Linked DNA regions of Homo sapiens. The protein of the gene in region 2 interacts with the protein of the main gene of each other region in a pairwise test. Each region holds a gene or a part of one and is shown on either strand. Other genes may lie near its edges.

Region 1 (7,483 bases), on a different chromosome or scaffold from region 2:
GAACCCAGGAGGTGGAGGTTGCAGTGAGCTGAGATCATGCCATTGCACTTCAGCCTGGGCAACAGAGTGAAACAAACAAACAAACAAAAAAATGAAGTGGCCAAAAATGCTTAGTTGGCCTGCCCCACTCATCCTAAGCTCAATCTTGGAAAGCCAGTGCACACAACCCCTGCCATTTTCACCACCCTCAGAGTTCCACAGAGCTCCACAGCCACCAAGGAACTGTAACTGTATCCCCTGTTCAAAAATTTAAAAACATAAAAATACATGAAAAGCAAGAAAAAATACATGTTTAAAAGAAAAACCCAGAGTGGTGAATATTAGTGTGTTATCTGAGAAATACTCCCTATCTTAGAATGAGTTCCTCATGCCCGTTAACACCCATGTTGTAAGGTGAACATTTGCTAGCCTCATCCAGACAGAATGGACCAAGAGCAGGCGTGTGTCTTTGTTGGCCAGCTTGGTTAATGAGATGAGATTAGACATGCTCCTTCTTCACCTCTTCACCAGACTCACAGACTCTGACCAATGAAAATGGTCTTAATTATGATTTTCTTTCTATTCATTGTCTGTTGGGTTCCTACCTATGCTGATTTTCACAGTCTTGAAAGTGTGTATTTTTTTAAAAACATTTTTTTAATTTCCAACTTTTATTTCAAGTTCAGGGGTACATGTGCAGGATGTGCAGGCTTGTTACATAGGTAAACGTGTGTCATAGTAGTTTGCCGCAAAGATCATCCCATCACCCAGGTATTAAGCCAGCATCCATTAGCAATTCTTCCTGATGCTCTCCCTCCTCCCCCTGCACCCTCCAGCAGACTCCAGTGTGTGTTGTTCTCCCCCTGTATGTTCATGTGTTCTCGTCATTTAGCTACCACTTACAAGTGAGAGCATGTGGTATTTGGTTTTCTGTTCCTGCGTTAGTTTGCTAAGGATAATGGTCTCCACCTTCATCCATGTCCCCATAAAGAACATGATCTCGTTTCTTTCTATGGCTGTATAGTATTCCATGGTATATATGTATCACATTTTCTTTATCCAGTCTATCATTGATGGGGATTTATGTTGATTCCATGTCTTTGCTATTGTGAACAGTGCTGCAATGAACATATGCATGCATGTATCTTTTAATAGAATGATTATATTCCTTTGGGTATATACCCAGTAATGGGATTGCTGGGTCAAATGGTATTTCTGCCTCTAGATCTTTGAGGAATCACCACACTGTCTTCCACAATGGTTGAACTAATTTACACTCCCACCAACAGTGTAAAAGTGTTTGTTTTTCTCCACAACCTCACCAGCATCTGTTGTTTTTTGATTTTTAGTAATAGTCAGTCTGACTGATGTGAGATGGTACCTCATTCTGGTTTTGATTTGCATTTCTATAGTGATCAGTGATGTTGAGCTTTTTTTCATGTTCATTGGTCACATGTATGTCTTCTTTTGAGAAGTGTCTATTCATGTTCTTTGCCCAAAAGTGTGTATTTTTGTACTTCTCTATTTGGACAAGTACAGAAGTGTCATTTTGTATGTTTCTATTTGGACAATATGTGTAGGTGCAACATTTACAACCCCACTGTACAATCTGACACCATTGTCCACAATAATATGTCAACAGGGTAGCCTGACAGCCCATATTTGAGGCTTTCCACTTTTAATTCTTTTTTAAACATAAGAATCGACTTTATTCTGCCTTATTTGTGCATAAGACTACCTTCAGTATTATCTGACGACAAACCAAAGACTAGATGTTTTCTACAGATTACCAACTCTCCAGAAGAGAAGCAGTCAAACTTATAATTGCTAAAAATCATGAAATGAAAAGGAAGCTCCACAAAAGGGAAGAGGGAAAGTGTAGGAATTAGACATGGGGATTTCCATTCCCTGTTACTCTGGAAACCATGGTGACTGAGAGCTGTGATTAAACCATATAATATGCCGATATAAACTTAGAAGAATCTGGGAAAGAAGAAATTTCTCTGGCCAGGTGTGGTGGCTCACGCCTGCAATCCCAGCACTTTGGGAAGCCGAGGTGGGTGGATTGCTTAAGCTCAGGAGTTGGAGAGCTCAGGAGTTCCAGACCAGCCTGGGCAATATGGCAAAACCCCATCTCTACCAAAAATACAAAAATTAGCTGGGTGTGGTGGCATGTGCCTCTAGTCCCAGCTACTTGGGAGGCTGAGGTGGGAGGATCTCTTAAGCCTGGGAGGTGAAGGCTGCAGTGAGCTGCGGCCACTGCACTCCAGCCTGGGCAACAGAGTGAGGCCCTGTCTTCAAAATAAAAATAATAATAATAATAAATAAATCCCTTCTATCTATTCAGTTCCTTTTCCTTCCAGACAAAATTTTTCCACACAAATCAATTTGTTTGCTAACTGCATCAGGATTTTCTCTAAACCATAATACAATCGGCAGATTAGTTGTCCAGTGGAAATAACCTTCTCCTGTATGGTCTAGGCTTGTTTTAAATGCTCTACCATCACTGGGCTTGGGATTGCAATCCTCAAAACTTCTGGGAAATCTGAAAATGAAGTTACAAATTAAATCATAGGTCTCCAAGAAGCCTGGAATTTTGATACATTCATCCCGGTTTTCTTCCACCCAAGTGTATATTCCGTGGGCTGTATCTGTGGGGAATCTGCTTTCCTGCCCATGAACACACCGAAATGGTTCTGCGAAGATGCCTTTCTCTGGAAGAGCATTTTGCTTTTGTTAATGAGGCAGAAAATCGATCTCATATTGTTGAGTAACCACACCCTTCCTAGCACTTGGTTTTTACAAGACCACATTGTTGAAATGATGGACGTGCTCCTAAAAAGCTGTGTATCAACTTCATTTTTAAACTTTTAATTGAATTTTATATTAGTGGCAACCACTATTTAAAGAAACCCTCTACTCTAGGCTAGGCGCGGCGGCTCACGCCTGTAATCCCAGAGCTTTGGCAGGCGTAGGTGGGCGGATCACCTGAGGTCAGGAATTCTAGACCAGCCTAGCCAACAAGGCGAAACCCCGTTTCTACTAAAAACAATACAAAAATTAGCCAGGCGTGGTAGTGCCTGCCTGTAATCCCAGCTATTCGGGAGGCTGAGGCGCTAGAATCCCTTGAACCCGGGAGGTGGAGGTTGCGGTGAACCAAGATCGCACCACTGCACTACAGCCTGGGTGACAGAACGAGACTCTATCTAAACAAACAAACAAACAAAAAACCCTAAAATAAATTATTTGTAACATGAACAGAATGAACAGATCCTCCCCCAAACTGATATTTTTTGTGGGACTGGACCTTTCTTAAAGGATTTTCTTAAATAGAATTATTTCAGATCATCACTTACTTAGATGTGTAGCTATATTAGGTCACAAGATTGTGTACTTATAATCATAAAACGTATACTTAATAATGAATCCCAACCTGACCTCAAAAGACTATATCATATAATACTATATTAACATTACATATTTATTGGTCGGGCACGGTGGCTTACGCCTGTAATCCCAGCACTTTGGGAGGCCGAGGTGGGTGGATCACGAGGTCAGGAGTTCAAGATCAGCCTGGCCAAGATGGTGAAACCCCGTCTCTACTAAAAATACAAAAAATTAGCCAGGCTTGGTGGTGGGTGCCTGTAATCCCAGCTACTTTAGAAGCTGAGGCAGGAGAATCGCTTGAACCTGGGAGGTGGAGGTTGCAGTGAGCCGAGATCGCACCACTGCACTCCAGCCTGGGTGACAGAGCAAAACTCCGTCTCAAAAATAAATAAGTAAAATAAAAATAAATAAATGAAAAATAAAATTACATATTTATTATGTTTTATATTGTTATATAATATAAAAAGTCGGTTTTTCGGGGTTTTTTGTTTGTTTGTTTGTTTGTTTGAGATAGTCTCGCTCTGTCACCCAGACTAGAGGGCAGTGGCGCGATCTCTGCTCACTGCAACCTCCACCTCCCGGGTTCAAGCGATTCTCGTGCCTAGGCCTCCCGAGTAGCTGGGATTACAGGTGAGCACATCAAGCCCAGCTAATTTTTTGTAATTTTAGTAGAGACGAGGTAAAAAGTAGAAAATATTTTATAAAAATATATTTGTGTAAAGTAGAACATATATAAAAACATACTAAAGGAGAAAGGAGAAAAAAATTCTTTCATTTATTTTTTTCCCAGGCATTTTAAATTTGGATTATAAAAATCATTTTAGAAAAATCATTAATGCTCTTTTACAAAATAACCCGGTGAAGCAGCTGAGCCCGAGCCGCCCGCCAGCGGCCCCGCAGCAGCTCCAAGAAGGAACTAAGAGACCAAGGCCTTCCTGCTGCCCGGACCCGACACCGCTACCCTGGCTCCCCGCCGGCAGCCGGCAGCCAGCGGCAGCGGATCGACCCCGTTCTGCGGCCGTTGAGTAGTTTTCGATTTCGGCTGATTTTTGTCCCTCTGCGCTTGCCCCCGCTCCCCTCCCTCCGGCTACGCCCCCGGCCCCGGCACGCGCTCTACTCCTGTAACGGAAAGGTCGCGGCTTGTGTGCCTGCGGGCAGCCGTGCCGAGAATGAACCCCAGCACCCCCAGCTACCCAACGGCCTCGCTCTACGTGGGGGACCTCCACCCCGACGTGACTGAGGCGATGCTCTACGAGAAGTTCAGCCCGGCAGGGCCCATCCTCTCCATCCGGATCTGCAGGGACTTGATCACCAGCGGCTCCTCCAACTACGCGTATGTGAACTTCCAGCATACGAAGGACGCGGAGCATGCTCTGGACACCATGAATTTTGATGTTATAAAGGGCAAGCCAGTACGCATCATGTGGTCTCAGCGTGATCCATCACTTCGAAAAAGTGGAGTGGGCAACATATTCGTTAAAAATCTGGATAAGTCCATTAATAATAAAGCACTGTATGATACAGTTTCTGCTTTTGGTAACATCCTTTCGTGTAACGTGGTTTGTGATGAAAATGGTTCCAAGGGTTATGGATTTGTACACTTTGAGACACACGAAGCAGCTGAAAGAGCTATTAAAAAAATGAACGGAATGCTCCTAAATGGTCGCAAAGTATTTGTTGGACAATTTAAGTCTCGTAAAGAACGAGAAGCTGAACTTGGAGCTAGGGCAAAAGAGTTCCCCAATGTTTACATCAAGAATTTTGGAGAAGACATGGATGATGAGCGCCTTAAGGATCTCTTTGGCAAGTTCGGGCCCGCCTTAAGTGTGAAAGTAATGACCGATGAAAGTGGAAAATCCAAAGGATTTGGATTTGTAAGCTTTGAAAGGCATGAAGATGCACAGAAAGCTGTAGATGAGATGAATGGAAAGGAGCTCAATGGAAAACAAATTTACGTTGGTCGAGCTCAGAAAAAAGTGGAACGGCAGACGGAACTTAAGCGCACATTTGAACAGATGAAGCAAGATAGGATCACCAGATACCAGGTTGTTAATCTTTATGTGAAAAATCTTGATGATGGTATTGATGATGAACGTCTCCGGAAAGCGTTTTCTCCATTTGGTACAATCACTAGTGCAAAGGTTATGATGGAAGGTGGTCGCAGCAAAGGGTTTGGTTTTGTATGTTTCTCCTCCCCAGAAGAAGCCACTAAAGCAGTTACAGAAATGAACGGTAGAATTGTGGCCACAAAGCCATTGTATGTAGCTTTAGCTCAGCGCAAAGAAGAGCGCCAGGCTTACCTCACTAACGAGTATATGCAGAGAATGGCAAGTGTACGAGCTGTGCCCAACCAGCGAGCACCTCCTTCAGGTTACTTCATGACAGCTGTCCCACAGACTCAGAACCATGCTGCATACTATCCTCCTAGCCAAATTGCTCGACTAAGACCAAGTCCTCGCTGGACTGCTCAGGGTGCCAGACCTCATCCATTCCAAAATAAGCCCAGTGCTATCCGCCCAGGTGCTCCTAGAGTACCATTTAGTACTATGAGACCAGCTTCTTCACAGGTTCCACGAGTCATGTCAACGCAGCGTGTTGCTAACACATCAACACAGACAGTGGGTCCACGTCCTGCAGCTGCTGCTGCTGCTGCAGCTACCCCTGCTGTGCGCACGGTTCCACGGTATAAATATGCTGCGGGAGTTCGCAATCCTCAGCAACATCGTAATGCACAGCCACAAGTTACAATGCAACAGCTTGCTGTTCATGTACAAGGTCAGGAAACTTTGACTGCCTCCAGGTTGGCATCTGCCCCTCCTCAAAAGCAAAAGCAAATGTTAGGTGAACGGCTCTTTCCTCTTATTCAAGCCATGCACCCTACTCTTGCTGGGAAAATCACTGGCATGTTGTTGGAGATTGATAATTCAGAACTTCTTTATATGCTCGAGTCTCCAGAGTCACTCCGTTCTAAGGTTGATGAAGCTGTAGCTGTACTACAAGCCCACCAAGCTAAAGAGGCTACCCAGAAAGCAGTTAACAGTGCTACCGGTGTTCCAACTGTTTAAAATTGATCAGAGACCACGAAAAGAAATTTGTGCTTCACCGAAGAAAAATATCTAAACATCGAGAAACTATGGGAAAAAAAATTGCAAAATCTAAAATAAAAAATGCAAAATCTAAAATAAAAAATGGAAAGGAAACTTTGAACCTTATGTACCGAGCAAATGCAAGGTCTAGCAAATATAATGCTAGTCCTAGATTACTTATTGATTTAAAAACAAAAAAAAGATTACTTAATTTTGATTTAAAAACAAAAAATCGTAAAATACAAAAACCAGTTAATGTTTTGTAGACCCTGGGAAAAGAATTTTCAGCAAAGTACAAAAATTTAAAGCATTCCTTTAATTTTTTAATTCTTTACTGTGGAATAGCTCAAAATGTCCATTCTGTTTTAAGTAACAGAATTGATAACTGAGCAAGGAAACATGGTTTGGATTATAAAATTCTTGCTTTAATAAAAATTTCTTAAACAGTGAAAAAAAGAAAAATCATCAATTTTACTAATAGTCTTTCTTTACATTTTCTATTATTCTATCTCCCACTATATTTCAAATATGAAAATCACTTTTTCACCAAAATTTTAGGTCTTTACATAATAGTGTTTATTTTTAATATTCATAAATGAAAATATGCAATGACAAAATAGTAATTATAAATTCAGTAACATTTGTTCAAAATTGTAAGACAATTATTAATTTATACTGCATTATTTTTAAATAAAAAATAAATACATAGTTTTAAAAATCTAATTGAACAGGAGGCTAAACATGGTTCTGATCACAGAGATAATCACTTTTAATCATTTGGTTTTAGTGTTTCTGGTAGTTGATTTTCTTCAATAATAATTGTACATAGTTATTTCTTGGTTTATCAATTTTGTAATTTAACTATTGACTTCCTGCTGTAACAAATAAGGATATGTTTCATCTACCTCTTCCCACCATCCCTCCTCCTCCTCCCAATATAATTTATCACTACTTGTAGCTCCTTTATTGGTAATATTAATTAATATAAATATTTATAATTAATGTTACACCTAGTGAATTGTATAAAAGGA
Region 2 (7,029 bases):
AAGACACTTCCGTGAGATGATTAACACTTTATTTTATAGTTTTTTTATTGAAGTATACTATTCAGGGTATTCTACGATCTTATTGAACACAGTATGGAAACACCAAATTGATATTATTTGATAAGCATAATCTTTTCTTCTTGATATAAGAAAATACTATTTTTTTCTGAAATAGGTATCTGTATTTTAAAGGGATAATGGTTGATTATGAGTAAATCATTGTTTAATTAAATACTGAACTGTTATTTCTCACAGACATTAATATTCTCTCTTGGAAACAAATGCAATGTGTCAAATAAAATATCTAATACCTCTTTCCAATAGTCAAATCATGTTTAATACTTCTTTAGACTGGTAAAATATAATACATTCAGACCAAAATCTTGTTGTTTGTTTGTCTATAGGTACGTATATATGGATATATAACTTGAAAGTTTCTAAAGTACAGGAATTCATTTTTATATACAATCATTTATTATAGGTAAGGGAACTAATTAGATTTAGGACCACAATACAAGCTTTAGAAAGACTTTCTACTGGCCTTAATGTCCAGCTCAGAAAACAATATTGCACTGCTGAAATGTTTTCAAAAGTTTATGGCTTAAAAGAGCATTCACTTTGATTAGAATTTTCTGTATTATTTAATGTAATGTTTTAAATTAAGTGGAAATAGCCAAAATATGAGGGACTAGGAACTGCTATTGAGACTACTTTTCCTTTACCGTTTCTTCTCAGTTTTCTTCAGTGTAGCAGTTCTTAAAGTGTCATTCCCTGACCAGCAGCATTAGCATCATCTTGGAAGTTATTAGAAATGAAGATATTCTGGCCCCACATCTGACCTGCTAAATTAGAAACTCTGGAGGTGGGACCCAGAAATCTGTGTGTTTACACACAGATAAAATGATTGCTCTAAAATAGTGGTTGTCAAATTTTAACATGCATTAGAGTTACTAACCATCTGTGTAATTCTAATGCATGTTAAACTTTGAGAACCACTATTTTAGAGCAATCATTTCATCATTTCTTCTGTGTGTATGTATGCGTCTGTGTGTGTATGTATGTATGTATGTATGTATGTATATAATTTTCAGGACTGTCGGCCATGGGGCATCATTATATTATTTGTATATAATATCTATTAAAGAACTTTATTTTTGCTTTTATTATCTTGCAGTTTTTCTGGTTGGTGTATTACTTTATTCAGTGATAATATGAAAATTACTATCTTCACTGAAGGATCTACTGAATAATCATTTTAACTCAACTATATTGCATTCTTGAAAGCAATCCTTTCAATGTAAGTATGATGTCTTTTCTCACTGTCTTTGAAAATATAGTTCTAATATTAATATAGACAGGTAAAGAGTGGCTAACTTCTTATGTTTCCCATCGTCAAAGGGAACATAGAGTTGTAATAGGGAGAACAATTACATTTTCTTTATTATACAAATATCCATTCATAGTCTTTTGTGATATCTTGACAAATTGCTTGCTTTGCTTTGCATTCCCAGATGAATTTAACCAGTTGAATAATGGAAACCACTTTGCATTGATTTTGGCATTTACTGTAGTCAGATACATTACAGGCATACTAATAGGTTAGGCTAGATGGGAAAAATGTTAGCTTAAAGGATAAGTATATTGGGAGAAGACAGGGAGCCAAACAAGATTTAAATATTCTGCAATGTGAACTACTGCTGATCTCCACATTTTGAAAACGATAATTAGAAATTTCATGTTTTGTGCTTCTATTGAGGTTTATGTGGAAAATTATTGAAGAGTTTCTGCCTTGAATTTGGAATTTTAACTTATGAAAATGTAGCTTTATAATTCATACTCAATAAACACACTTTCAGTAAATAAAAGTTGGATTGTACCCAAGACAGTATTATAAGCAATATGGGTGGCTTTGTTGCAGTTTTTCCACCTTTACCATGACATTCATCCAAAGTTTCTATTTAGCCATACTTTTTGCTTCAGAAAATTCAAATTAAGTTTCCCAACAAGTTTTCTGATGTGCTGTTTTTGATATATGGGTGATTAACTCTACTATATGCGGTTAAGTATGGAGCCATAATCTACACATTAAGATAAGTCCTATTACTTTAATGCCATATTTGAAATTTGTACTAATAACACTGCATTGATATTGTACATTATGTGAAAATGAACAGTAGCTGTGCCAAAAGGAGCATAACATTATTGTCAAATCTTGATTATTCATGTTAATAGAGGTCAGCATTTTTGGAGGCATGTATAGATTCCAGATCAGTACAAATCACTTATATTTACTCCATTGTGACATGTATTTTATTATATTTTGTGCTTATATATGTCTATATGTATACATATATATGTTTGAGTATATATGTATCACAAATTTTTATCATAATTAACGCTTTTTTCTAGGGCTAATTTTAAAAATTTGTAATTTTCATTTTCTTATGTAACAGTAGAGGTAGTTAGTGACATGGTAACTCAGAATTTGTCAGTTAGTAATGATATGGAATAAAATAGACTTGATTCCAAAAACAAGCTTTCATAGTTATGGCTAGAGAAAGGTTAAAAAAAACCTAACTGGTTATTAAAGCCTTGATTTAGACAATTGAATAATGTGTTGCTCACGCAAGGACACCGTTTCTCCACATCCTGGCAAGTTGTCATCACTGTTTCTGTAATTATTATGAAATACTAGGCCTAAACTATTTTATGTGTGTGTGTTTAAAGCTTGTAGGTAATTGAAAAGACTAGAATGTTTGGAAATCACTAGCATAGATAATTAAGTGGCAATTGGAAAGTTGCATACTGATGGACAGTTTTTCTACACCACTTTCCTGGTATAAAGTGAAGTTAAATTTTGGACCACTTTCTTATCTTTGCAAGATCTTACTGCCATTCTGTTTGGTAAACAAAATCCTATCTTCTCCCTTCTCTGATATCTAGGAGCAGATCCAAGATATTAAGTAGGGCTTCCAATTTCTTGGTTTGAAGGATATCTCTTGATCAAGGACTTCTGCATTTTGGCAATTTTTTTTTAGTTAAGTCTCTGGATGGTTTTATTTGTATATAAGTGTCCTGTCAACTTTTGTTTGGGAAAGAATTTCGTAATTTCAGTAATGTCAATATAGCAAGATAAATGTTTTCCTTTATTTTCAGATCATAGATGATTTACATGGAGACTGTAGGCCTAGGATTAGACCATTGAATTTTTTAAAATTTTTACTGATATTGACAATGGAAATTTGCCATTAAGGAAAGGAAAATATATATTTGCAAAACAAATTTGCACATGAAGAAGGAATTTTAGAACTTTTGCTGTATCATAAATTAAAATCTTAACAGTTTATATGTGATATTTAAAAAATATTTATTAGGTAAATTGTTTTTCTTCCTAAAACCTTTACATGAAGCCAGCCAGTGTTATGAACTATTCCTTTTCTAGATTGAGAATTTGAGCATAACAAACTGTTAGCTTCTAATAATTCAGTGATAATTTCAGAAGGAACTAGAAAATAAGATTACCAGTTCTCATTGCATGTTGTATCACTTCATGTAGCATCTTGCTCTTTCCAGTGTCCTAAAGATGCTATATAGATCATTTCATTCGATAGATAAATTACCAAATTCTGAAAGCCTGATATGTAATCAGTTTGGTCCATCCATCTTTAAGGATCGATTTGGATATTCACGTAGCTGATCAAACTGTATAAACATTAGTCATTAAAGTGGCTTAAAACAAGCATCCTATTTCATGGGTCATTTCATCATATAATAAAAATAAATATTCAGTCTGTAGTTCATATTTCTAGGGATTACATACAGAGAAACAGAATAGGTTTAATTTTTCCTTCTCACTAACACAGATATGCTGTTGCTTAATAGGCCTTTTGCAAAATGCATGGACTATCAAAGTAGTCCACGTAGATGTCAAATAAGATGATTATGTTTGCTCTAGTTCTACTAGGGAAATACATAATACTAAATTTCAAATATTTATATTCTGTTTTGATAGCTCCTTAGATAGGCAAAATATGAATACTGTCCACACAAATCTTAGGCTTCATATTGTTTTTTATTTCTGGAAGTCAGGAACAAATGCCTAACCCCAAAACTATGTCCATGTTGAATGTTATTTACTTTCCTAGATTTATTTGTTTAGACAACTTATTAGCGTACTTGAAGATCCATGTAATCACTGTGATTGTACATAACAACATAATTGTATCTACTTGCATTTATAGTGTTACAATATATTATAAAATGTTAACTTCCTAACATTCCCTAAACTATAAAATTATCTGAGCATATTATATTGCAAATCTGCAGTGAACATTTTTTAAAGCTTAGGAATCTTATGAGTTTATATATTCTTATTCTCATTTCAGGTACAAATTTAGTAGTCTCATCTGTTTTTCATTTTAAATTGACATTCCTTCAACTAACATTTTTTAAAGGGCTACTGGGCACATAGAAGAGGTGATAAATTAGGTACTTTCCTTATTAAGGAATTAAAGGAGCTCATACTCTAACAGAAGACTTCAGTAATATTCTTTTAAGTAAGAGCAGTTATATATGAGAAACTGAAAAGTATATGAGAGAGTGATCTGATGCTTTTGGGATTAAAGATTATATATATTGTTTGTAAACACTATGCCATTGAGTCCATTGGTTCTAACACAGAGACATGTTATCTGGTCTCACTTTACAATCATGATAATTAATCTCAATGATACATTATGGTTATCCCATGAACAAAATTTATATCACCAAAGAAATACCATCATTATAGTATTTACATGAAGCAAGATTAAAAAAGGCTACCATTTTATATCAACAGTCATTACAACTCCAGAAAATTCCTGAGAAATCTGTTTGCATTCATCAATGTATCTAACATCTTTGACATAATAATTGTGGCTTTTATTTCACTTTTATATTTAAACATGATTAAATATATTGGTAATTTCCTCCCTAGTATTATCATGGTTTATGTTGAGGGTAAGTCTATTTTTAACTTTTTCATATGCTTTAGCATTGGTTTTAAGGTGCTAACATATTTCTTCCCAATATTTTGTTTGCTGTCTAGTGATCTACTGACTTCACAATGTCTGAAATCAGATTCACCAATCTCACTTGGGATCAAGTTATAACACTGGATCAAGTGTTAGATGAAGTAATTCCAATTCATGGAAAGGGGAATTTCCCCACAATGGAGGTAAAACCAAAAGACATCATTCATGTTGTGAAAGATCAACTCATAGGGCAAGGAATTATTGTTAAAGATGCCAGATTGAATGGTTCCGTAGCAAGTTACATACTTGCAAGCCACAATGGAATCAGCTATAAGGATCTGGACGTTATTTTTGGTGTTGAGCTTCCAGGTAACGAAGAATTTCAGGTTGTTAAAGATGCAGTTCTAGACTGTCTACTTGACTTTTTACCAAAAGATGTAAAGAAGGAAAAGCTCTCCCCAGATATCATGAAAGACGCTTACGTACAGAAATTGGTCAAGGTTTGCAATGGGCATGATTGTTGGAGTCTTATCTCCCTTTCAAATAACACTGGGAAGAATTTAGAACTAAAATTTGTGAGTTCACTCAGACGGCAGTTTGAATTTAGTGTAGATTCCTTTCAAATTGTTTTGGATCCCATGTTAGACTTCTACAGTGACAAAAATGCCAAGCTAACCAAAGAATCCTATCCTGTTGTGGTAGCTGAAAGCATGTATGGAGACTTCCAGGAAGCAATGACACATTTGCAACACAAGCTCATATGTACCAGGAAACCTGAAGAGATTAGAGGTGGTGGCCTTCTGAAGTACTGCAGCTTGCTGGTTCATGGCTTCAAGCCAGCCTGTATGTCAGAAATCAAAAACCTAGAACGTTATATGTGCTCTAGATTCTTTATTGATTTTCCTCATATAGAAGAACAGCAAAAGAAAATTGAATCATACCTCCACAACCATTTCATAGGTGAAGGAATGACCAAGTATGACTACCTTATGACCTTGCATGGAGTTGTGAATGAAAGCACTGTTTGCCTCATGAGTTATGAAAGAAGACAGATTCTCCACCTGATCACCATGATGGCTTTGAAAGTACTTGGAGAACTAAATATTCTACCCAATACACAAAAGGTAACTTGCTTTTATCAGCCTGCTCCGTACTTTGCAGCTGAGGCAAGGTACCCTATTTATGTAATACCTGAGCCACCCCCCGTTAGCTTCCAGCCATACCACCCACTGCACTTTCGTGGATCAAATGGTATGAGTTAAAAAATACACATGCAACCATAGAAACTTTGATTTAATTAAACACCATTTAAAAGCAAGTTTCCAAATGTAAAATTCAAGATCTGTTTTTATTTTTGTACAGTTACCAATTATTTTCAATTACAGTTGATGGAATAGTAGTTACCAACTATTTTTGATCAATTAAGCCATCATAGTAAATACAATATCTATAAACCAACCACTTTAAATGTTTTTCAAACGTTATTGACTAGCTATAATAACTTTCAAATGTTGTGTTCCCCTTGAAGTGATTTTCAAATCTTTTGACTACTTGTGACTTTCAAATTTACTGTGACAAATATATTAGAGATGCCTGCATCTTTGACTATAACATAAAAGGACAGATTCATGTTTTAAAATTAAGATGTACAGTGAAGTATCAAATTTTTTATATTCAGTCAGTTCCTTTGTTACATTTAGTTCTTTTTTTCTATTGAACAATACCATCAATAAATGTTCAGTACTTAACAGAAATGCCTAATTTCAAAAGCAACAGATTCAGAAGACATTAAAACCCTGGACTTTTCAAGCATTTTTTTTTGACAATTAAATTGGGTTGGATACAAAAATCCTACTATAGTTTAAAGGAATACTGGAAAAAAATGGTTCTGGAAAGCCCTGGACATTAGTAATTTGTCATCTATATAATAAAACATTTAGTTAATTTGTGGATTTGAATAACAATACCATACAGCTGTGCAACTACTACTGAGATCAGATACAGGGTTTTTTGCCCC

The links. The genes of interacting proteins can lie anywhere in the genome.
Region 1: the proteins of TENT5D (region 2) and PABPC3 interact in binary tests that used the Homo sapiens proteins (3 or more experiments, as listed by UniProt).

Annotation. Positions count from the first base shown.
Region 1 is NC_000013.11:25,091,664-25,099,146, forward strand, and holds the start of PABPC3 (polyadenylate-binding protein 3), read left to right. Parts: upstream 1-4,472; 5' UTR 4,473-4,535; coding exon 4,536-6,431; 3' UTR 6,432-7,483. UniProt on the Homo sapiens protein: Binds the poly(A) tail of mRNA. May be involved in cytoplasmic regulatory processes of mRNA metabolism. Binds poly(A) with a slightly lower affinity as compared to PABPC1.
Region 2 is NC_000023.11:80,437,436-80,444,464, forward strand, and holds part of TENT5D (terminal nucleotidyltransferase 5D), read left to right. Parts: intron 1-1,174; 5' UTR 1,175-1,297; intron 1,298-5,086; 5' UTR 5,087-5,104; coding exon 5,105-6,274; 3' UTR 6,275-7,029. UniProt on the Homo sapiens protein: Catalyzes the transfer of one adenosine molecule from an ATP to an mRNA poly(A) tail bearing a 3'-OH terminal group.